7 linked regions of the Homo sapiens genome follow. The protein of the gene in region 1 purifies or fractionates together with the protein of each later gene. This does not show direct contact. Each region holds a gene or a part of one and is shown in the gene's direction. Other genes may lie near its edges. The genes, in order: PPTC7, DNAJC11, ASF1A, MRPL22, MAOB, AIFM1 and ACSF2.

What was found.
Region 2: the proteins of PPTC7 (region 1) and DNAJC11 purify together in Homo sapiens (affinity purification with mass spectrometry; one large-scale study listed by BioGRID and IntAct). This does not show direct contact.
Region 3: the proteins of PPTC7 (region 1) and ASF1A purify together in Homo sapiens (affinity purification with mass spectrometry; 2 studies listed by BioGRID and IntAct, with this or other methods). This does not show direct contact.
Region 4: the proteins of PPTC7 (region 1) and MRPL22 purify together in Homo sapiens (affinity purification with mass spectrometry, with the first as the bait; one large-scale study listed by BioGRID). This does not show direct contact.
Region 5: the proteins of PPTC7 (region 1) and MAOB purify together in Homo sapiens (affinity purification with mass spectrometry; one large-scale study listed by BioGRID and IntAct). This does not show direct contact.
Region 6: the proteins of PPTC7 (region 1) and AIFM1 purify together in Homo sapiens (affinity purification with mass spectrometry; one large-scale study listed by BioGRID and IntAct). This does not show direct contact.
Region 7: the proteins of PPTC7 (region 1) and ACSF2 purify together in Homo sapiens (affinity purification with mass spectrometry; one large-scale study listed by BioGRID and IntAct). This does not show direct contact.

What each region holds. Positions count from the first base shown.
Region 1 is NC_000012.12:110,538,319-110,541,818, reverse strand, and holds part of PPTC7 (protein phosphatase PTC7 homolog), read left to right. Parts: intron 1-1,873; coding exon 1,874-1,997; intron 1,998-3,063; coding exon of another isoform or gene 3,064-3,090; exon of another isoform or gene 3,091-3,092; intron 3,093-3,500. UniProt on the Homo sapiens protein: Protein phosphatase that plays an essential role in mitochondrial metabolism and biogenesis. Positively regulates biosynthesis of the ubiquinone, coenzyme Q. Dephosphorylates the ubiquinone biosynthesis protein COQ7 which is likely to lead to its activation.
Region 2 is NC_000001.11:6,691,817-6,695,316, reverse strand, and holds part of DNAJC11 (dnaJ homolog subfamily C member 11), read left to right. Parts: intron 1-3,500.
Region 3 is NC_000006.12:118,897,152-118,900,651, forward strand, and holds part of ASF1A (histone chaperone ASF1A), read left to right. Parts: intron 1-3,500. UniProt on the Homo sapiens protein: Histone chaperone that facilitates histone deposition and histone exchange and removal during nucleosome assembly and disassembly.
Region 4 is NC_000005.10:154,947,573-154,951,072, forward strand, and holds part of MRPL22 (large ribosomal subunit protein uL22m), read left to right. Parts: intron 1-3,248; coding exon 3,249-3,366; intron 3,367-3,500.
Region 5 is NC_000023.11:43,872,451-43,875,950, reverse strand, and holds part of MAOB (amine oxidase [flavin-containing] B), read left to right. Parts: intron 1-3,500.
Region 6 is NC_000023.11:130,134,842-130,138,341, reverse strand, and holds part of AIFM1 (apoptosis-inducing factor 1, mitochondrial isoform AIF precursor), read left to right. Parts: intron 1-301; exon of another isoform or gene 302-816; coding exon of another isoform or gene 817-824; exon of another isoform or gene 825-1,156; coding exon 1,157-1,264; intron 1,265-1,610; coding exon 1,611-1,699; intron 1,700-2,156; coding exon 2,157-2,297; intron 2,298-3,500. UniProt on the Homo sapiens protein: Functions both as NADH oxidoreductase and as regulator of apoptosis.
Region 7 is NC_000017.11:50,432,718-50,436,217, forward strand, and holds part of ACSF2 (medium-chain acyl-CoA ligase ACSF2, mitochondrial isoform 2 precursor), read left to right. Parts: intron 1-3,500. UniProt on the Homo sapiens protein: Acyl-CoA synthases catalyze the initial reaction in fatty acid metabolism, by forming a thioester with CoA. Has some preference toward medium-chain substrates. Plays a role in adipocyte differentiation.

The sequences.
Region 1 (3,500 bases):
AATAAATACCTACGTATGATGACCACTTTGGGACCCTTGGGAGACACAGAGTCCTTACTATGCCAAAATACTGTAGCTATTTCCGGTGAATGTATTCTTTTTTTTTTTTTTTTTTTTTGAGACGGAGTTTAGCTCTCGTTGCCCTAGCTGGAGTGCAATGGTGCAATCTCAGCTCACTGCAACCTCTGCCTCCCAGGTTCAAGTGATTCTCCTGCCTCAGCCTCCCTAGTAGCTGGGATTACAGGCGTGTGCCACCACGCCCAGCTAATTTTTTGTATTTTTGGTAGAAACGGGTTTTAACCAGGCTGGTCTCAAACTCCTGACCTCAGGTGATCCGCCCGCCTTGGCCTCCCAAAGTGCAGGGATTACAAGCGTGAGCCACTGCGACTGGCAAGTGAATGAATTATTTTTTTCCTTTTTCTTTTTCTTTGAGATGGAGTCTCACTCTGTTGCCAGGCTGGAGGGCAGTGGCACGATCTTGGCTCACTGGCTCACTGCAACCTCCATCTCCCGGGTTCAAGCAATTCTCCTGCCTCAGCCTCCTGAATAGCTGGGATCACAAGCGTGTGCCACCACGCCTGGCTAATTTTTTAATTTTTAGTAGAGACGGGGTTTCACCGTGTTGGTCAGGCTGGTCTTGCACTCCTGACCTCAGGTGATCCACCCACCTTGGCCTCCCAAAGTGCTGGGATTACAGGCGTGAGCCACCACACCCAGCAGTGAATGAATTCTTATAAGATTGGCGGCTGGGCGCAGTGGCTCACGCCTGTTATCCCAGCACTTTGAGAGGCCAAGGCGGGCAGATCACGAGGTCAGGAGATCAAGACCATCCTGGCCAACATGGTGAAACCCTGTCTCTACTAAAAATACAAAAAATTAGCCGGGCATGGTTGCGGGCACCTGTAGTCCCAGCTACTCGGGAGGCTGCGCCAGGAGAATGGCGTGAACCCAGGAAGCGGAGCTCGCAGTGAGCCGAGATCGCGCCACTGAACTCCAGCCTGGGCGACAGAGCGAGACTCTGTCTCAAAAAAAAAAAAAAGATTGGCATGTTGTTCTCCACAGGTATTCATCATCCCACCCTCACTATGGCACTCCAGGACCCAGATTCAAATATTCGAGGAAACTGATGAGTGAAATATGTGAATAAGAGGGGGTGGGCTGGGTGGCTGGTGATTACAGTGGCTCATGCCTGTAATCCCAGCACTTTGGGAGGCCGGGGCAGGCGGATCACCTGAGGTCAGGAGTTCAAGACCAGCCTGGCCAACGTGGCAAAACCCTGTCTCTACTAAAAATGTAAAAACAAATTAGGCGTGGTGGTGCATGACTGTGGTCCTACAGGCACTATTTTACATGCCTGTAGTCCCAGCTACTTGGGAGGCTGAGACAGGAGAATCGCTTGAACCCAAGAGGCAGAGGTTGCAGTGAGCCTATATCGTGCCACTGCATTCCAGCCTCGACAACAGAGCGAGACTTGTCTCCAAAAAAAAAAAAAAAAAAGGCGGGGGGGGATGGAATTCGGCTGTAAAGAATTAGGAATAAAGACTCATTTCCACTAGGATTTTAGAGGTGTGTTAGATCTGACTCAGAAGAGGACCCTTCCTCCCTCCTTCTCAGCCACTTGTGACTAATCATCAGACTTGGTTTTACTCGGTAGTTTCAGTTAAAAATTTGAAACATTTATATTAGAATTTTCGATTAACTTTTTTCAGAGTTGGGAATTTCAGAATGACTTTTTTTAAAAATTGACTCCATTATGATAAATCAGTTTTTCTTGCAGAAAGCTTATTACATTGTAAAATAGTGCCTGTAGGACATTTTCAACTCATCTGTAAAGGGCCTTCTTAACTTTGTCCCTCCCCTGTCCTTGCCACAGTCCGGATGCTGCTGATAGCACGTCTTTCGATGTCCAGCTAGGAGACATTATCCTGACGGCAACAGATGGACTCTTTGACAACATGCCTGATTATATGATTCTTCAGGAGCTAAAAAAGTTAAAGGTAATTAACTCAAAGGTTAGCTCTTGGGAAAAGTGGCCCTCTCTGGATAGCTGAGTTTTATGGATTCAGTTGCATTATCTCTTTGTAGTTTTGGAAAGAACTATTTTGTGAATTTCAGGAAAATAATAATAGCTCTGGTCTTTCAAATAATTAGAGCACTTGGAAAAAGAAGCTTCCTACCCAAGGTTTTCATAGGCTGGTAGAAGTAGGAAAAGTCTAGATGGAGGGCATTTCTTGTTTGTATCTTTATTTATATTTTAATGGTGTCGGGTCCTGGTTGTTTCTCCTTTTATTCTTCTAACACCCAGCAGGTGTTGAATCAGGCAAAGACAGGAAATAGTCATGCCAGAGCCAGCCAAAGGCAGCAGGCCACTGGAAGCCTCAGTGTGACCTGAGCTGCCACCAGTAACCAAATAGTATGGGTTTCTCCCATAGAGGAAGGAGGTGAAACTAGGCTTTCAATTTTTTCCTGGCTTTGTGAACATACTCTGGGAAAAATGAGTCTTTTTCTCATGAGTCTTTACCTCTAACCAGTATGACTTTGGGTACGTTTCTTTCTTTTTTTTATTATTTATTGAAGTTGCTGAGATCTGAGGGTTTCTTAAAACTGTTTAAGCAGTATTTTCTTCATATAAAATGGGGCATCCTAAAGATCCTCTTTTATAGGGTTGCAGTGAGGATTAACTACAGCCCTGTGTAGGAACTCCTTAGCGCCACGCCTTGTCTGTGGAGTGCAGTCAGTGTGAGGTGCTTCCTTGTCACAGGCACCGTGCTCTGTGTGGTGACACAGTGGTGAGCAGAATCTACACAGTCCCTACCTGTATGGAACTTACATCCTAGTGGAGGAAAATAGATAAATACAGGGAAGTAAATCTATGATGTAATGTGGGTGCTAAATAAGAAAAACAAAGCTGGATAAGGGAATAGAGAGTAGAAGGGACTGCTACTACTTTAGATAGATTGGTCAGGAAGGGCCTTTTTGAGGAGGTGACATTGAAGCAGAGACCTGTCATTATACTGAAACTAGAGCTGAAGTGGACCTCGTGTTCCCATCCCCGTTTTGCAGATGAGGAAGTTGGAGCAGCAAGGATAAAGGTATGGCCCAAGATTTCACAGCTCGACAGGAATCTCTTCCTGATATAAAATTCTGAAGGTATTTTCACTAGAGCAACTGGTAGCTCTTGGAGAGCAAACTGGGGTTGGCCAGGCTGTGTTCCTAAGCAAGGAAGCTTTTGAGGTATCCTTCAAAGGCTATCAGAATCTGCCTTTTCAGTTCATCCTATTTTAGCAAGAATACCTTAAGAATTTCAAATGGGAAAAAAAGCAAAAATGAAAATCCAAACTTTAGGGCTTAAGGCCACCAAAGCAAAGGACTTTCTGATTGATACCTTGTGCAGGCAGCACTGGAGTCTTGTTCATATTAGCCAGGGCATGATGTTTTAATGTCTTTTCTAACTAGAATAAAACTTACATGATGGAAAAGGTGGTTAGATAAATGTTACT
Region 2 (3,500 bases), on another chromosome or scaffold:
TTTAAAAAAAGACATAAGGATTGGGGGGTGGCTCACACCTGTAATTCCAGCACCTTAGGAGGCTAAGGCAGGAGGATAACTTAAGTCCAGGAGTTTGAGACCAGCCTGGGTTGGCATAACGTAGCAAGACTCCATCTTTAATTAAAAAAAAAAATTTTTTTTTTTTTTTTTTTGAGAGAGTCTCGCTCTGTCACCCAGGCTGGAGCGCAGTGGCACAATCTCGGCTCATTGCAAGCTCTGCCATCTGGGTTCACGCCATTCTCCTGCCTCAGCCTCCCGAGTAGCCGGGACTACAGGCACCTGCCACCACGCCCAGCTGATTTTTTTTTTTTTTTTTTTTTTGATTCGGAGTCTCGCTTTGTTGCCCAGGCTGGAGTGCAGTGGTGCGATCTCGGCTTATTGCAAGCTCCGCCTCCCGGGTTCACGCCATTCTCCTGCCTCAGCCTCCTGAGTAGCTGGGGCTACAGGCCCCCACCACCATGCCTGGATAATTTTTTTTTTTTTTTTGTATTTTTAGTAGAGACGGGGTTTCACCGTGTTAGCCAGGATGGTCTCGATCTCCTGACCTTGTGATCCGCCCGCCTCAGCCTCCCAAAGTGCTGCGATTATAGGTGTGAGCCACCGCGCCCAGCCAAAAAAAATTTTTTTTAATTAGCTGGGCATGGTGGCATGAGCTGTAACCTGTAGTCCAGCCTAAGGTGGAGGTGCAGCCGAAAAGCAGGTCAGTTGTTTACCGCATGCAGAGTCCAGTTAACAAGAGTGAGGCGCATACAAAGCCAGTGAATTTACTCTGAAGTCAGCTTGGGGAAGGGGCACGATGTCCTGCTGTACCGCTTCACTTTTAGAGCAGAAAGCAGGCACTTTTATAAGGTATAGGAGGAAATGAGCAAGGGCAGGGGTCCCCCTGCTATCTGGGTACTTTATCTAACTGGCAATTGAGTTGGCATCTTCCTGGGCAGAAAGAAGTAAAAGTGGCCATGGGGACATGATTTGGTCTGCAAATCCACTGTCAAGAGATCCGTCTTGGAGCACGTAGTTAGCTGAACTTGCCCCATAGAAGATGTCTGGTGAGGGGGAGGGGAAAGGTTATATTTGCATTTCTAAAGGGCTAAGTAGGAAGCAGGGTACCGGGGAAAGGGGGAGAGGAGAAAATAATTAAACTATCTCTTAGAAAAAATGGGGCTGGGCATGGTAGCTCATGCCTGTGAATCCCAGCACTTTGGGAGGCTGAGGCCAGCGGATCACTTGAGGTCAGGAGTTCAAGACCCACCTGGCCAGCATGGTGAAACCCCATCTCTACTAAAAATACAAAACTTAGCCAGACTTGATGGCGGGCGCCTGTAATCCCAGCTACTCATAAGGCTGAAGCAGGAGAATCTCTGCTGGGAGGTGGAGGTTGCCGTGAGCAGAGATCGCACCACTGTGCTCCAGCCTGGGCAACAGAGCGAGACTCTGTCTCCAAAAAAAAAAAAAAAAAAAAAATGGGGGTACTTGGTTACAGGAGGATTGCTTGAACCTAGAAGTTTGGGGCTGCAGTGAGCTGCAGTCACACCACCACACTCTAGGCTGGGCGACAGAGCGAGACTTTGTCTATAAAAAGCGAGACTCCGTCTATAAAAATAATAATAAATAAAAGGCTGGGCGTGGTGGCTCATGCCTGTAATCCCAGCACTTTGGGAGGCTGAGGCGGGTGAATCACGAGGTCAGGAGTTCGAGATCAGCCTGGCCAACATGGTGAAACCCTGTCTCTACTAAAAATACAAAAACTAGCTGGGTGTGGTGGTGGGCGTCTGTAATCCCAGCTACTCGGGAGGCTGAGGCAAGAGAATTGGTTGAACCCGGGAGATGGAGTTTGCAGTGAAGCAAGATCGCACCACCACTGCACTCCAGCCTGAGCGACAGAGCAAGAATCCATCTAAACGATAATATAACAATAAATAAAAATGTGAAAGACATACATGTACATAAATAAATTTAAAAATGTGAAAGACATACTTGGTATGCTTCATCCTGGCTAAGGATGAACTTTGCTATCCACTTGTAATATTACTAAAAATCATAGTGCTAGAATGTATGCTAAGCATTAGTTTATGAAATTCCTGAGGTTGGGTGTGGTGGCTCACGCCTTACAGTCCCAACGCTTTGGGAGGCGGAGGCGGGCAGATCACCTGAGGTCAGGAGTTTGAGACCAGCCTTATTAACATGGCGAAACCCTGTCTGTACTAAAAATACGAAAAAAAAAAATTAGCCGGGTGTGGTGATGCTCGCCTGTAATCCCAGCTACTTGGGAGGTTGAGACAGGAGAATTGCTCAAACCCAGGAGGCGGAGGTTGCAGTGAGCCAAGATTGTGCCACTGGACTCCAGCCTGGGCAACAGAGCAAGACTCTGTCAAAGAAAAAAAAAGAGGCTGGGCGCAGTGGCTCATGCCTGTAATCCCAGCACTTTGGGAGGCTGAGGCGGGCAGATCACCTGAAGTCGGGAGTTTGAGACCAGCGTGACCAACATGGAGAAACCCCATCTCTACTAAAAATACAAAAATTAGCCAGGCGTGGTGGCAAATGCCTGTAATCTCAGCTACATGGGAGGCTGAGGCAGGAGATTCACTTGAACCCGGGAGGCAGAGGCTGCAGTGAGCCAAGATCGTGCCATTGCACTCCATCTTGGGCAACAAGAGCAAAACTCCATCTCAAAAAAAAAAAAAAAAAATTCCTGAAGCATTTTTTACTTTCTGTTCAAAACACTGAGTTTGTTCTTTTTAAAAGACAGTGATCTCTCTGAACTTGTGCTTCCTGGAAAGTTGACATGGGGATAGGGAGCTTTCCTGGAAGTTGGGGCTAAGTATGGGAGTAGGGTGCAGGCTCAAGGATAACATTTTTTGGGTGTTTGGGGTAAAGATAGGATAGTTGTGAGCCAAGCAGAGAGGAGGCAGAGCTGGGGGCAGGGGTGGGCCCAAGAGGGTGCCCGGGAAGTGGAGTTTAGAGAAGCTGCCTGTGTGCAGGGAGGGGGCTGTTGAGGATGCCCCACCACTTCCAATGTCATCTCATAATGTGATTGGCAAACGTGAGGTTACATTTCACAATGTGTTTCTTTAATGATCTATAAGCCAGTTATTTTCTGCTTTGGGCATTTCAAACAATTGCTTCTTGAAATGTTAATGCTCTAATTTTGCATTATCTACCAAAACACCTCTTTTATTTTCTTTCTTAAAGAGAATTCAATGGAAAACTTTTGTATTTGCTGTGAATTTAGTAATAAAACAATGGAAAACGGGACATGAGAGCAACATGCTTTGCTTGGCTGTAGAATTTTATTGTCTGCTTTTTATTAACCTTTCATTTTAATTTTACTTACTTACACCTTTGTTTAAGAAAGGATGTAAGACAACAGATGAAAAAATAAAATAGCATATATTTTTTAAAGGAGTCACACATTTCTTAAAAAGAAGACAATTGAGAACATTGCTGCATTATTACCACTGTTACAGCATATGCCTGGTACA
Region 3 (3,500 bases), on another chromosome or scaffold:
TTTGAAAAGAATTTTCTTAATAAGTTATTTTGCCTCAAGTCTCAAAGCAGAGTTTGGCCACCGTTTTTCATACTTTCATCAGTAGCCCCAAACGTTCACTTTCCTTTAAGAGCTGCCCTGTAGCTTTGCTTCAGAAAAAGCCTTGAGGAATATTTGGTCTTAAGATAATTTGGTTCTTTCTAATATAGGGCTTATATCAAGGGTTAAGACAGCCTGAGACCCTGGCTGGATGTGCTTGATGGTCACCAAGACTGTACAAGTTTTGATTGACCATCCTGCCATTCTTAAATTTATATATATATATATCTTAATTACAGCTACTGTCAATTGAATACTTATAATATACCAGAATTGAGCATGGTGCTTCATACTTTCCAACTTCAGCTTGTTCTAATTCCAAAGCCTACATACTTTCCACTAGACCACAGGTCTTCCCAAGTAGTGTAATTAGCTAAAAATTCTCTTGATGACTTCCCTCATTCACTCACTCTTTCACCACAAATGTAAATACTTTCAGGCTGGGTAAATCATTTAATCATGATTACTGTGATTAAATAAAAGTTAACTTTAAAATAAATGAACAAATTTCTTCACCTGAGAACTTATGTAAAACATCTGACCTTACCCTTCCTCCCTCAAATACAGGGGGCAGAGGAATTAAATGAAAGCTGGGTTAAAAAAAAAAACAACAAAAAAACTGATGCCAATGTATAAAAGGGTATTGAGCATGTAAAACTCAGCAACTGTAGCAAGCATCCCATAAACATAAAAATCAATGTACAAGTGTTCCCTGAGTTGCAGCCTGTTCTTGTTAAGGCTAGATTCTCTCTCCATCTCCTCTGCTCTCACTTCCCCTGCAAATAAATTCCCTTATTCCACTGCTAATTTCAGAGCTAGAAAGAATTTATCTTCCCAGTTAGGTTTTCAGAAGAAGCCCGGGGTTTGTAGTTACAGAGGCATAGCTTGGATTCTGATTCTTTGATGTACAAATTATGAATTTGTGTAGATTACTTAACCTCTCAGAGTCTCAAGTTATTTGCATAATGGGGATAATTTGATCTACATGATGAAGCTGTTGAGGTTTAAACAATAGGTATGAAGTAGAACTAATGCCCAGTATATAGTAGGTATTTTCTAAAATAGGTTTATAAATTATGGCTATGTTCCTATGCCAGTCCACAAATGCGAATTTATACCACTTAGGATCAAGGGCATTATATGTAGTGATACAATTATATATGAAATTAAAATTCATGAAAACCTTTATGTAATAATTTTTTTTTTTTTTTTTTGGAGACAATCTCGTTCCATTGCCCAGGCTGGAGTGCAGTGGCGCGATCTCGGCTCACTGCAACCTCCGCCTCCAGGGTTCAGGCGATTCTTGTGCCTCAGCCTCCCGAGTAGCTGGGACCACAGGCATGTGCCACCCCTAATTTTTGTACTTTTAGTAGAGATGGGGTTTCACCATGTTTGCCAGGCTGGTCTCGAACTCCTGACCTCAAGCCATCCAGCCACCTTAGCCTCCCACAATGCTGGGATTACAGGCGTGAGCCACTGCGCCCAGCCACTCTATGTGATAATTCTTAGTCTTATCCTCACTTGGCTAGTTTAGTACCTTTCACATCACTTTCTTAAAACAGTTTCTTCACTTGGCTTTTGGGTCACCTACCTCATTTGCCACTTGTTTTGTAACTTAATTTGTCCTCTTATCTTTGGAGGGCTCAAATCTCACTCCCTAGAGCAAGCCCATGTATTTTTATGGCTTTACATATCATTGACAGGTTCCAAATTTTTATCCTGCCTATTCAGTATCTCTGCTTAGAAGCAGACATCTCAAATATGTCTAAAATGAACTCCTGATTGCTCCCCTACCCCACATCACCTCCCTGCAAAAGTGGCTCCTGCTGCTTTCATCTTCAGGATTTTATCCAGAATATAACTGTTGCACAGCCCCATGGCCACACGAGGTCCATGCCACCATAATTTCTTGCCTCAATTATTGAAATATTGTTTCTTCCCTTGTCCTCTTACACTCTATATTGAACACAGCAATCAAAGCATTCCTTTTAAAATGAAAGTTGGCTCCTGTTACTGCTCTGCTCAAAACCCTTCGATGGCTTCCCATGCCACGCAGTGTGAAAGCCAGAGTCCTTATGATGGCCTTCAAAACCGCATGATCTGGCTGTTCCCCTCATCCTCAATCATAGGGTTTGGTGCTTTCCTCCTTCCTTTCATTCTGCTCCAGCCCTAGCCTCCTTGCTTTTTCTTGCCAAGTGTGCCCTACCCCTGGGCCTTTGTATTTGCTGTTCCCTCTGGCGAGATACTTATATTGCCTACTTCCTCTCTATCTCCATCAACAGATGATCTCAGGAGATGTCAGATGCAGCACCCTGCATCTGGAAGTGTGCTGGAAGCTGGAAATAGAAATGGTTTAGTTCTAGGACAGAGCCATGACATAATAGGTCCTCAGAAAATGATTGCTGACTTAATAAGAGAAAATAAAAAAGGAGCTTTCAGTTGATTGTAGTTTACAATACAATATAAATAAGCAGTACGTTACTATTTCTATTATCAATTTAGGGAACAAAAATATCTACAGTTACACAAAAATGGCCACACATGGTGGCACTAACTAGATTGTCATGAGTGACCCAGAAACTCACCCTTTGGGAGTGCTTGTGTAACAGTGTGTTGAATGCAAGAGGCAGGCCACACAGTGCAAAATACCCAAAGAAGATGAAGAGGTCTCTCAGAGATGGTTTGTATTACAAAGTTATCTTCTTCCTCAGCTAAACAGGAGACTCCTCCAAAGAGTTCTACTCATCTCTGGGTTCACTTCACAGAACACATTGTAAAACATGCTCAGTAAAATCCGCTATATTGAATTACATATAACGCCTTGAATTGCACCTGAATGTCTTTTCCTCCTGCCTATCTCCACTGTGTATACTCTATTGTATCACGTGGTGTAAAGATCTTGGTTTCCTCTGCCCAATTTAAAGAATGTATGACACAGGGGGGTGCCGTAAGGGAAAAACCCTACCATTGTTCGTTGACAGTTGATGAGCTGAAGCCACTTACTTCTGAGCCATGAGGGAGGTTTTACTAATAATTTTTCTACTTTGGAGCTCTGTGATTATTTGGATCTCTGCAGCGTAGTATAGGGCTGCCCTTCCAAAGTGTGTTGAGAAGGGCCTTAAAAGATGATATACAAAAAAAGGGGGATTCCATAGCCAAATAAATTTGGGAAGTGCTGGATTAATGTTACTGGTGTTCTTTACTGAAGGATATCTCAGAAAACTTACTGTGCCAGCATGCTTTATGAATCCTCAAGACAAGGTTTACAGCATTTCCCAAGTGTTTGGCTATGTTATCTTGTTTGTGAGGCACTGTCCAGGAACTAGTGTTTCACAAAAGAGTATTTTGAGAAACTCTGATCAAAGTGTGAACTCTGGTAGGAACTTTATAAGGAGCATTTCACTGCCTTTCTGGATTGCTAT
Region 4 (3,500 bases), on another chromosome or scaffold:
ATATTTGTATGAGAATATGCCAATATACAACCACTTTGAGTATATAAGTCTGAGTTAAATGTTTACGCAGTATCCACGTACCAGACATTGTTCTTGGTGCTAGAATACAAAGAAAGTCGGACTTGCCCTTTAAATGCTCAACATCTGTACACTTAGTACAATAACTCATTCTATTATAGCCACTTACGATAGTACAGTGGTCTAAGTCATTGCTGTATGGCTGGCAAGAACAAAGTATTAAGACAACGCGAGAATCATGATCAGATAAGGGATTAGGTGATGTTTCACATTGAGGTGACATTTGAGCTAGAACTTAAAACAGGATAAGCATTTCATTCAGGAGATAATAAGACGAGAAAACAATTTGAATAAAGGCTTGTTCAGGGAACAATGAACATCTATGTGGCTAGGCTATAAGGGCAGATTGGGTCTAGATTATGAAAGGCCTTCTATGTCTCGCTAAAGAGTCTGGACTTCGTATTGTGGGCAGTAGGGAAATACCAAAGTTTGCTGTGTTAACTTTTTATTTGGATATGCCCAGACATATACAAAAGTAGACAGTTTGATGAACCTCCATGTATCCGTCACCCAACTTCAACACTTACTACTTATGGCCAATGTTATTTATAACCTGTACTCTCCCTCATCATATTTTGAAACACTCCCCCCACTGTATCATTTTCATAAATATTTTACTATTATCTCATTAAAAAGCATTAAATATCCATTTGATATTTAAACTTCCAATGGCTTCGTAACTGTCATACTTTATAATAGTTCACACATTGAAACTAATTGATATTTCTGTTAAATCTCTTACTCTGTAGGTTTTTTATTCAACCCTCTCTTTTTTTTCTTGTAATTTATTTGTTGGAGACAATTGGTTGTTTTGTAGCGTTTTCTATACCTTGGATTTTACCGAGTGCATCCCCATGATATTACGTAACATGTTGTCTTTTCTCTGTGTTTCCTATTTTGAATCTAGGGGCTTGAGCCCCCAGTTTCATTTTGGGCAGGAAAGACTACTTTGTGGATGGTGGGTGGTGTGTTCTTCCATAAGGAGGCACATAATGCCTCCTTTATCCATTAGTTTATTAAGGATTATAAGATGATGCTATAATAATTTGCTATTCCTTCATTACTAACTTTATACAAGTCAAATTTTTCCTCATCTACTACTTGGAAACTTAATGGTACAGTTTGTATAGGAAAGACAGGATAAGTCTTGTCTTTTTCTTCATTCTTTCTCTTCATTCACCAGTTTTCAAAATAACAAGTTGGCTCACTAGCATTTTCTAATGGTAATTAATTTGTATTTTTCCTGGTTTTATTATGAACTTATGGCTTTAAACATATTTGATGTGTTTCAACCCACTACAATTATTGTCCTGATTAATGCTTGGCTTGTCCCATCTTTGGCTTGTTGGGCATCCACAAGTTGGCTCCTGAGTGCCTTTGACATGACCTTGGTAATCTTTGATGGCTTCTTTGCTTTCTGATATGACAAGATGTTCTGGGCTCATTTTGTATGTTATCTGCTTGAGATCTGCAATCAGCCATTTCTCTCAGAAGTTTTGGTTCTCTTCAATAGGAAATGGTATTTCAAGACCGTAATCTGGGAAGTAGGGGCACTAATTGCTACTAGATTGTTCATTGCTTCTACACCTCTTCAGTGGAGAGATCTAGTACTTATTGGATTTTGGCTGAACCTTTTCTGCTTATTTCCATACCAAGAATCCCAGTAGTCAGTGACACTGAAAAAAAAGGATAGCATTAGAATATTACATAACTATTCATTTGCTTATTTCAATAGACGTTTTTAAGCTGGAGGATGACATGAGTAGCTCTGAATTATAGAAGGGTAGCTCATTTGGTACTCAAGCAGAGAAAGATGGATTGGAATTGGGCAAGTTGATGGAAGAGAAATCAATCTAGAGGCTATTGCTATATAGGATGGTGGCAATTAGAATGGGGAAGAGGTAAAGCATTTGAGAACGATTTCAGGGGAATCTTTATTTTATCTGTAAGATTTGGTGACTAGCTCTGGCAGGATGAAAATCATTGGGAAGTTGAAGATAAACTCTAGAACACCATTCAAGAGTGATTTTATTTAGTGATATAGGGGAGTAGCGGATGCTGGGGAAAATGGGAGAGGGAGAATGACTAGTTGTATATTATTAAAGCAGTTAAAGTGTGGGGGAAGAGGTCAAGGAATAGTGAATTTGGGATCTTCATCATCAAGTCTCAGCCTATTAGTTTAGCATTCAAAGACAACCACTCTAGCCTCAATGACCTTTCCAATACTTAACAAATTCTCTGACTCAGTCAGACCTCCCCTTATTTCTCAACTCTGTACCTCTGCATAGATGATATATGTCGTTGCCCCATTCCTCTGATAATTAGTGTATTAGTCCATTTCACACTGCTATAAAGATACTACCTGAGACTGGGTAACTCATAAACCAACAAGGTTTGATTGACTCACAGTTCTGCGTGGCTGGGGATGCCTCAGGAGACTTAGAATCATAGGGGAAGGTGAAGGGGAAGCAGGCAACTTTTTCACAAGGCAGCAGGAGAGAGAGACAGTGCAGGGAAACTGCCACTTTTAAACCATCAGATCTCATGAGAACTCCCTCACTATCACGAGAACAGCATGGGGGAAACTGCCCAGCGATCTAATCACCTCCCACCAGGTCCCTCCCTCAACATGTATGGATTACAATTGAAGATGAGATTTGGGTGGGACACAGAGCCGAGCCATATCAATTAGGAAGTTCAAGATTCACCTGAAGTCACCTCTGAAATCCTCTGCTGTTTCCCATATTTTAGTTATGTGGTTTTATATTGTCTTCTAATTGTTTTGTGTTTTTGTCTTAGTTACTCAACAAAGTTGGGCAATCTTACAGGTCAGATCAGAGAGCTCATTATGTCTTCTCTAAATCTTTCTTAGGAGTGGGTGACTTATAGAAGACAGTGTTATTGGCCAGTCAGGGCAAGAAATCTTGGGTTAATATCTATTAACGGTTTGACTTATGTGCGTTTACTTTCTCTCCTGTTAGCCTCTAATAAACTGTCTCTTTGTTGTGTTTAAAAGTAGTCTCTATTAATGAATACCTCTAGAATATTTCCAGTTGTGATCCTTAAATTGTTTTCATCAAAATGGAGCTGAAGTGGTTCAAAAGATATGTAAACTCTACAGAAAGGTCCCCTAAGTGTCTGTTGTTTTATAGGCTTCTTTCATTTCACAGTGTTTTACCTCAATCATATATCCACACAAGTGCTTCTCTTGACATTTCTCGAAAATGGGAGAAGAAGAATAAAATTGTTTATCCTCCACAACTGCCTGGAGAACCTCGGAGACCAGCAGTAAGTTCGTGGGTAGAACTAATCTCTTAATTGTGGTAGTGCTCTTACTCTTAAGTGATTAGTAATGATTTATTATTCTGTGTTAAAAAAATTATACAACCATTCACTCTAATTGACAGAGAAGATGTACTAGA
Region 5 (3,500 bases), on another chromosome or scaffold:
AAATGTGGTTATTAATTCTTCAATTTATCCTTCTGCAAAAGATGCCCTGCTAGATATCAAAAGCTCTTTCAAAGAGCTTGTCTCTTCAATTTGTCTTGGTACTTCTTCAGCCAAGTTTCTTCAATTTTTCTTGGTACTTGAAAAGCGGGTGAGTGTTCCTGGGCTAACTCCTAGAATTCTCAATAAATGTTAACTTTGTTATTTGTACAAGTCACTGGGCAGTACTCAATTGAGGGCACCCTGGAATCATGCAAGATCGAATACCCTTGAAGGGTGCAAAAGTGAGCCAAATTGAGGGGCCACGTTCAGGTGTAATATGTGTCTGAAGAACGAGTGTTTTCAGCCCCACAAGAGAATGCTTTGGAAATTTGCTCAGGTTAAATGTGTACCATTGTGCTTTTGCAAGAATCTCATTCGCTGGGCTTAACTTATTAGTAGTGTGTCTGCATAAAAGTTGTTATTTCCCCTAAGAGGAGGCCATAATGGTATAAAATTCCTTCCTGATTTTGAATATTCAAGGAACAAACTTAGAAGACCAAGCTAAAAAATACTTTGGTTTAATAGAATCATTGGTGACTGAAGACGGAAGCATCTTTAGAGTTTTACCTACTAGTTAAGATCGCCTGGTTTTGCATCCAAGAAAAAGCACATTTAGAGAGTGCAAAGGGCTGGCTCCAGACCTCACAGCCCCTTCTTTTGAATAAAATTATTGTCCTGGAGGATGAGCCCTCAGCCTTAGGAGAAAATGCAAACAGAAGGACAACCTGATCAAATGGTGCTGGGTGAGAGGTTAGAATCACTAATACTTTGAATGCACTATTTCTACTTTCTGTTTTCATGCTCACAAAATGGATCCATCTTTGGCCTCCTCTGTTAACTCAGTAAATAAAGATACAGAAAGCCAAGTCCCTGTTAGCAATGTTTCCTAAGTCAGCATGCATTTATTTACTGAAGGAAGGTATAGAAAAAGAGTAAGACTAAGTTCCCAGCCTCAGGAAACTTAAAATGCAGATGGAGACACAAGACTAGCACATACATGCAATAAGGAACAATTAAACTAATGTATAATTGAATTCTGAACTGTGGGACCCAAGGACTAAGTTAGAAGAATCATTAAAGACCCCAGGAGTTGGAGAAGGTCTCATTAAGGGAGTAGAATTTAACAGATTCTGAAGAACAGTCCAGGTTTGGGAGGGTAGAGAAGAGAGAGGCTTTAAAGATGAGAAGAATCATTTAAATCATAGGGCCAGAGACTTCAGTTAGCAGGTGATCTTTATATTTACAGGACAGTAGAAAGTCCAGCTTGTCTAGAATAAAAGGAAGGGGAGACATGGGAAGGAAAGTTAGTAGGAGGGGGGCAGGATCCAAAAACGAGCAATTGAAAAACAAAGTGAAAAGTTAGGTTTTCCTGTGGTAAGAAATAGGGAGCCATTGACAGTTTATACTATAAAGATAAGGTGGATGGTCGTGTGCCTGATAACCAGGGAAGCCAAAACATGGATAGAAATTCAGGAAAGGATTGAGAGGTGATCAGCTGATTATAATGTATTGGGTTATTCTGAATGCCCAAGGGAGGTTTCAAGAGAAATGGGGATAGAAAGAAGGGAAGAATGAGTAGAAGGAGGTGTCCAAAGTTGCACTTGGCTTTCTTCACTGTCTTGCTGGCAGCCTATCCAGAAAAGAAGTATCACAAACAATAATTAGTTGTAATTTAATGAAGTTGTAGGCACTCCATAAAACATTTACCACTGTTACTATTGCCACCTATATTTTATTTTTGCAAACTTCCCTCCAAAGTTTTATCATTGGGATTGAAGGACTTGACTGTATTTACATTTTTTCTTCTTTAAAAAACTAAAAACAGAGATTTTCTTCCCAAGGGCTGTGACCCAGTTTACTAAATGATAAAACGTGTATCTCTGGCAATCTCAAACACAAAATGAATAGTTCATCTTATTTGTTATATAAAAACTGTCGGCCGGGTGCAGTGGCTCACACCTGTAATCCCAGCACTTTGGGAAGCCGAGGCGGGCGGATCGCGAGGTCAGGAGACCGAGCCCATCCTGGCCAACATGAAGAAACCCTGTCTCTACTAAAAATACAAAAATTAGCCGGGCGTGGTGGTGGGCGCCTGTAGTCCCAGCTACTCGGGAGGCTGAGGCAGGAGAATCGCTTGAACCAGGGAGGCGGAGGTTGCAGTGAGCCGAGATGGCACTACTGCACTCCAGCCTGGCGACAGAGACAGACTCCATCTCAAAAACAAACAAGCAAACAAAAACGAACAAAAATGTCATTTAAACCTTTTGTTTTGTGAGAGAGGGGCACCATCAGAAAACATCTTCAGGTAGGTCTGACCTTTCAAATGTTAGTCATCTTACCATAGTCTCCATTTAATGGCATCTTAAATGTCATATACTATCTAATTTCCACTTCATATCTGAAATTTGAGCTCTTGATCTTATGTTATGCATCTCTTAGCTAGGCCATTTTTAATTCTACTCTCCTCCTCAATAACATTTATCAGAATTACACAATGATGAAAATGTCCTACTAGATACTTAGTTTTATTTGCTCTCCTTCTAGCCTAAATAATCGTCCCTTTTGCTTAACCTCTCCAACATTTTTAATGATTCTTTTAATTGAATTTGGAATCCTTACTTCATATTTTGAAGTTGGGCTACTTTTTATTGCTGTGATCCCAGTGGTGTGTGTGTATTAAATTGTGTATTGATAATTATGTCTTTAGTTATATCTCATTTCTTTGGGTTATTTTCCAGTTTTCTACATTAAAGAAACAAGCTCATTGGAAGAGCTTTTGTTATCCAGCAAAGCATCTTTTTTCAGAAGGATAAAGTTAAGAATTAATAACCAATTTAGTTAATAACCAAAATTACTTCAAACATTTGGTAAGAAGAAAGGCCACTGATAGAAATGAAAGATGCAATCACATTCCATCTTGATGATCTACAGTTTGAGGACATTTTTTAGAGAGGTGTGAGTATCTTTTTTAATAGCATGAATGCAGAAATAATAAACATTTGTTGTGAAAATCTGTAAATTATAGAAAATGGCAAAAAGAAAATGAAAATCATCCATAATTGAACTCCATAAAATATTTACCACTGTTACTATTGCCACCTATATTTTCTTTATGCAAACTTTATGTTGTATTTACTGTACTTATTTGTATCCCCTTTAAAAATAAATACCAACATGTTATGAATGTTTACCTATGTCTTAAATGTTTTTTCATGATTTTATAACATTAGTTCATATGATTGTATCACAACTTGTTGAATCAATCTCCTATTGCTGAACATTTGTGTTTTTTTCAAACTTTCTGCTATTTTCAACAAAGCTGTTATGAACCTAAATTGTTGTACATAATTCTGATTGTTTCTTTAGGAAATTTCCAGAGATAAATGTTAGAAATTCTTTTAAGGCATTTAATAATTATAGCAAAATTGTCGCCCAAGAAAGTTTTACCAATTTACCTTATG
Region 6 (3,500 bases), on another chromosome or scaffold:
AGGCGCCTGTAACCACGCCTGGCTAATTTTTTGTATTTTTAGTAGAGATGGGGTTTCACCGTGTTAGCCAGGACTGTCTCGATCTCCTGACCTGGTGATCCGCCCACCTTGGCCTCCCAAAGTGCTGGGATTACAGGCGTGAGCCACCACACCCAGCCTAATTAAGGTTTATATAGTGAAAAGCTAAACACTGAGATTAGTTCTGGTGAGGGATCCCTTGGTGACCAAAAAGCTGTCACCTGAGCAACTTAACAGCGATGCTTTTTTTTTTTTTTTTTTGAGATGGAGTTTCACTCTTGTTGCCCAGGCTGGAGTGCAATGGTGTGATCTCTGCTCACCACAACCTCCGCCTCCCAGGTTCAAGCGATTCTCCTGTCTCAGCCTCTGGAGTAGCTGGGATTACAGGCATGCACCACCACACCTGGCTAATTTTGTATTTTTGGTAGAGACAGGGTTTCTCCATGTTGGTCAGGCTGGTCTTGAACTCCCAACCTCAGGTGATCCACCCACCTCGGCCACCCAAAGTGCTGGGATTATAGGTGTGAGTCACTGCACCTGGCCAACAGCAATACTTTCTTTCCTTTCTTTTCCTCTACCCTCTATGCCAGGACTCCTTAGAAATAAAATATTAAGGAAAGTGAGTTATGAAGATGATAAGGGCAATGCAGACTACAGAATTATGGGTGTCTTTGAACTGCTGCTTCCTGTAAAATGCCAAAAACTTCTTTGGGCACATGATGGTTCCCAGCTTGAGAGATCTGTGAGCTCCAGTTGGAATGTTTCATGGCAACTAGTTTTCTTAATGTTCTTTTTCAGATATATGAAATCAGGGCATCTTTTCAGGAGGATGCTTCCTATTCAGAGGTTGCAAAGCACTTATGTAAGCCTTAGGTGACTGCATGGGTGGAAGTGCACAGAGTTCACCATCTGAAGCTTAATCTGGGGCCAGCAGTTCTGATACCTGTTGTATTTGCGTTACAAATGAACTTGAGCACCGAGGCCCTCATGCCCACTGTCCTGTAAGTGGGCGCTCGGCCTGGATTGCAGCTCTGCCCTGTCTGTAGTGAGGGCTGCCTGCTGCTCCTTTACTTCTCTTCCTGTATTCCTAGGATTGACTTTTGCTTCCTGCTGTAACTACTCTGTTTCTTCTTCCCAGCTCGAGCCTTGGGCACAGAAGTGATTCAACTCTTCCCCGAGAAAGGAAATATGGGAAAGATCCTCCCCGAATACCTCAGCAACTGGACCATGGAAAAAGTCAGACGAGGTAGAGAGACTGTTTCTATATGCTGCCACTCTATTTCCTTTGAGTGTGACCTAAGGCAAACTTCGCTTCTATAGGAACCCCCTTGACATAAGCCCTATCACCTGGCCTGTAAAATGTTTCCACCATTCTCCAGTCAGCTAAGTTCATCTAGGTGTTCTGAATCAGATGCCCCAAATTCCTGGAAGTGCTGAAAATGAACCATGGGTGTAGGTTCTTGCAGCTCTCCAAAACTGCCTGTGTACTGATAATTGGTTTTACCGTGGAGGAGACCGCTGGTCAGCTTTCCTACTTCCCATGAAAGTGATAGCCTTGTAGGCTCACTCTCAGGTCTTGTTTGCCTTTACAGAGGGGGTTAAGGTGATGCCCAATGCTATTGTGCAATCCGTTGGAGTCAGCAGTGGCAAGTTACTTATCAAGCTGAAAGACGGCAGGAAGGTAAGGAAGGAAAAGATAGTCTGCCAAGAGGCCTTCCAGTTCTCCACTCCCCTTGCCTCATTTTTACTCCTTCATTTGACACCAGTAGATTAGTTTTCCTGGCAGTTGCCATTAACCTGATATAATTTTCCGAATTAACCATCCCTCCATTAAAACAGAATGATGAGAGCCAGAGTAGGCTCCTGTGAACCACTTTCCCTTAGCCCCATTCTATCTGTCTCACAGAGTTTTGAGTCCTGGCTAGGGTGGCAGATTTCTGTTCGAATGACATGGGGGATGTGCATGGGATGGGGTGGTGGAGGCTTATGAAATAGAACTTAAAATCCATTTATCAGAGGTAAGTTAACCCATGATTTTTTAAAGTCCCAATTCTTAATGGCATGAAGGGCCATTGTTACGCCTGTAGGCATAAATGGAAACTGTGGTAATTGACTGAATTATTTCTTTTTTGCCTCAGGTAGAAACTGACCACATAGTGGCAGCTGTGGGCCTGGAGCCCAATGTTGAGTTGGCCAAGACTGGTGGCCTGGAAATAGACTCAGATTTTGGTGGCTTCCGGGTAAATGCAGAGCTACAAGCACGCTCTAACATCTGGGTGGTAAGTGTGCTACAGCATGACCAGGCATAATTCATTCTCCCTAGCCTGTGAACAAGTCTGCCCGGTGGTGTGCTAAAGCTCATCAACAGCCTAACCAAATAGGGTCAGAGTGTTTGGAGGCTGAGGGTACAGAATAGAAATGTGTGAACTGCTTGATTCAGAAGACCAGGTATGGCCTCATCTGCAAGCTAGTGGCAGATGAAATGAACAGTGTGCATGCCTGCAGGGGTAGAGCTCTTCCGGTTCTACTTATTGGCAGCAGCTACTGGCATAACCCCTGGTGGGCATGCACATAAGCCTTCAGATGGATCTGCTGTTCCCTTTGCTCAAACTTGAATCCGGAGGATGGAGGATGAAGCAATGTTATAACCTGTTCCCTAGAAAGGAAAATTACTCTGTTTTCATTTTCCTTGAGTACTATTTTTAGCTGTTTTTTACAATCTATTATGACATAAACAAGACTATAGTATGTAGGAACCATGAGGTAATTTCCCCATTGCTAGTTACAAGTGTATTGTGTTTGTTTATGGACTCTGCAACTAAGGACGTAGGTACCTTGGAGGAATTTTTTTCCCCCTCCAAACCTTGTTTTTTTTTTTTTTTTTAAAAAAAAAAAGATGTACTGGATCTTTTTAACCTGTTATAAAAGTAATACGTGGGCCAGGAGAAGTGGCTTACACCTGTAATCCCAGCACTTTGGGAGGCTGAGGCAGGTGGATCACTTGAGATCAGGAGTTTGAGACCAGCCTGGCTAACATGGTGAAACCCTGTCTCTCCTAAAAATACAAAAATTAGCCGGGTGTGGTGGCACAGGCCTGTAATCCCAGCTACTTGGGAGGCTGAGTGAGGCAGGAGAATCACTTGAACTAAGGAGGCAGAGGCTGCAGTGAGTGGAGATCATGCCACTGCCCTCCAGCCTGGGCAACAACAGAGCAAGACTCAGTCTCAAAAAAAAAAAAAAAGTAATATGTGGTCAATGTAGAAGACAGACAAGAAGGAGAGAGGAGAGGAAAGTCACCTGCAGCAACCATTAATATTTTGGTGTATTTCCTTCCCTGTGTTTCCTTGCATGTAGGTTTTATTGTTGGTTTGTTTTATTCGTGGCAAGCATACTATATATAATATTCTGCTCTTTTCCACTTAACACCATAAATGTAAGCATTTTCTATGTTGCTTCAGACTTTGTAAACAGTTTAATGACTA
Region 7 (3,500 bases), on another chromosome or scaffold:
CCTCCATTTGGGAGTTAGTTGACGGGAAAGCAAATCCCAGTCCTACCAGTCCTAACTTAGTGTGGCTTTAGGCAAGTTACTGAACCTCCGCAGACCTTAGTTTGTTTGTAAAATAGGCTGTTTGGACAAGATGTGCTCTACCTTTGGGAGAAGATTCTGTGATTCCTAAAGAGGCTGGAGTTTGAGCCTGATCCCTAAACCCAATAAGGCTGTGATTTGAAGTATGCAGCCTTCATACGTGTGTGAAATTTCACTTGGTCTCTTATGAACCCTGAGTATGCAGCTTCCTAACCTGACATTCTGTAATTCTGTAGTCCCCTGAGCAAAAAGAAGCATCAAGTTTTGTTTTATACACACACACGCACACACACACTTAAATATGTTTTTCTTTTTCTTTTTTTTTTTTTTGAGACGGAGTCTCGCACTATCACCAGGCTGGAGTACAGTGGCGCGATCTGGGCTCACTGTAACCTCCGCCTCCTGGGTTCAGCAATTCTCCTGCCTCAGCCTCCCAAGTAGCTGGGATTACAGACACCTGCCACCACGCCCAGCTAATTTTTTGTATTTTTAGTGGAGATGGGGTTTCACTATGTTGGCCAGGCTGGTCTCAAACTCCTGACCTCGTGATCCGCCTGCCTTGGCCTTCCAAAATGCTGGGATTACTGGACTCAAACAATCCTACTTCCTCAGCCTCCTGAGTAGCTGGGATTACAAGCACAAACCACCATGTGCACCTGGCTACCTCAAAGGTTTTCTTCCTAGAAAACTAATATCTAGCCTTGTATGTATTTTAGTAATCCTATCAAGGGACAAGTGTCTTGACTCAGCCCCCATCCCTGATTCCTAGGCACTCTTCTCCTGGGGTCTCTGTCCAGCTATTCCAAAAGAAAACCTGCAGCATGGATGCCTCCTGACTCCAAGTATTTCAGGCTACTCTGTCACCTGGGATGGAGTGCAGTGGCGTGATCACGGCTCACTGTAGCCTTGACCTCCCAGTCTCAGGTGATGTGCCCACCTCTGCCTCCCAAATAGCTGGGATTACAGGTGTGTACCACCATGCCTTGCTAAATTTTTTGTATTTTGTTTTGGTAGAGACAGATTTCCACTTTGTTGCCCCAGGTGGTCTCAAACTGCTGGGCTCAAGCGATCCTCCCAACTCAGCCTCCCAAAGTGCTGGGATTACAGGTGTGACCCACCGCACTGGCCCTTCTATGTCTTCTTGAGAGAGTTTTCTAAACCCAAATTATCACTTCTTATGTATTTTCTGTACATACTTACAAACACACCAGTGGTTCCATTCAAGATGCTGAAAATGGGCCAGGCACAGTGGCTCACACCTATAACTCAGCACTTTGGGAGGCTGAGGTGGGAGGATCGCTTGAGCCCAGAAGTTTGAGACCAGCCTGGGCAACATAGGGAGACCCCATCTCTACAGATAATACTTTTTACAAATTAGTTGGGTGTGGTGGCATGTGCTTGTGGTTCCAGCTTCCTGGGGGACTGAGGCAGGAGGATTGCTTGAGCCCAGGAAGTCGAGGCTGCAGTGAGCCGTGATCATGCCACCACACTCTAGCCTCAGTGACAGGGTGAGAGCATGTCTCAAATAATAATAATAATAATAACAAAACAAGATGCTGAGAATGGAAGCTTCCACCAATATAGAGTATCTTGTTCAAAATCTTTACTGGGCTGGGTGCGGTGGCTCATGCCTGCAATCCCAGCACTTTGGGAGGCTGAGGCAGGTGGATCACCTGAGGTCAGGAGTTCAAGACCAGCCTGGCCAACATGACGAAAACCCATCTCTACTAAAAATACAAAATTAGCTGGGCATGGTGGCATGCACCTGTAATCCCAGCTACTCGGGAGGCTGAGGCAGGAGAATCTCTTGAACCCAGTGGGTGGAGGTTGCAGTGATCCGAGATAGCACCACCTCATTCCAGCCTGGGCAAAAGAGCAAAACTCCGTCTCAAAAAAATAATTTTTTTTTTTTTTACTGTAGTCCTTACTAGTCTTTGTAGTCGTTTGTAGTTTGTTCTTTGTAGTTGGTATTTTTCAGAGGTCACATACTCCTCAGGGTGGTTATGTCGAGTGGTAGAAAGATCATGGGGCTTTATGATATAATTACATACAGTAAACTGCACAGATCTTTTTTTTTTCTTTTTTTTATTTTGAGACAGAGTTTCACTGTTGTTGCCCAGGCTGGAGTGCAATGGCGCAATCTTGGCTCATCACAACCTCCGCCTCCCAGGTTCATGCGATTCTCCTGCCTCAGCCTCCCAAGTAGCTGGGATTACCCGCATGTGCCACCACGCCTGACTTATTTTGTATTTTTAGTAGAGATGGGATTTCTCCATGTTGGTCAAGCTGGTCTCAAACTCCCGACCTCAGGTGATTTGCCCGTCTCGGCCTCCCAAAGTGCTGGGATTACAGGCGTGAGCCACCGTGCCTGGCCTGTGTCTGGCTTTTTTTGCTCAGAAGCCAAGGAGTGCTTTTGGGAGGAGCAGCTCATTAACCTTGACAAAAACTCACAAAAGTGAGTTTTACGTATTAAACAGCTCAATGTTTCAGAGTTCTGTATGTATTCTAGTATTATTCCTTTGTCAGACATGTGGCTTACAAATGTTTTTCCCCACTTTGTAGCTTTTTTTCATCCTCTTAAAAGGGTCTTTTGCAGAGCAAAATTTTTTAATCCTTTTTTTTTTTTAATTTTTTGAGAAAGGCCTCACTCTGTCACCCTGGCTGGAGCACAGTGGTGCAACCACGGCTCAGTGCAGCCTCAACCTCCTGGGCTCAAGTGATCCTCCTGCCTCAGCCTTCCAAGTACGTAGGACTATGGGTACACGCCACAAAGCCCAGCTAATTTAAAAAATTTTTTCATAGAGATGGATGGCACTGTGTTGCCTAGGCTGGTCTCCAACTCCTGTGCTCAAGTGATTTTCCCACCTCAGCCTCCCAAAGTGCTAAGATTACTTTACAGACGTGAGCCACTATGCCCAGCCCATATAGCAATTTAAAAAAATTTTTTTATAAAGTCTAATTTATTAAGTCTAGTTTATAAAGTCTAGTTTAGTGAGTTTTTTTTTTTAGATGGGATCTCATTATGTTGCCCAGGCTGGTCTCCAACTCCTCGGTTCAAGCAATTCTCCTGCCTCAGCCTCCCAAGTAGCTAGGATTACAGGTGCATGCCACTGCACCCAGCGCTCAGTGAGTGTTTTTTTTTGTTGTTTGTTTGTTTTTAATGGATCTTGCTTTTGGTGTCAAGCCTAATAACTTTTTGCCTAGCTCTAGATCCAGAAGATTTTATAATTTTTTTTTACACTTAAGTCTGATTCATTTTATTTTTGCTTATATAGAATGTGAGACTTAGTCAGAGTTCATTTTTGTTGTTGTTGTTGTTGTTATTTTTTATTTTTTTTATTTTTTATTTTTCGAGACGGAGTCTCGCTCTGTTGCCCAGGCTGGAGTGCAGTGGCGCGATCTCGGCTCACTGCAACCTCCGC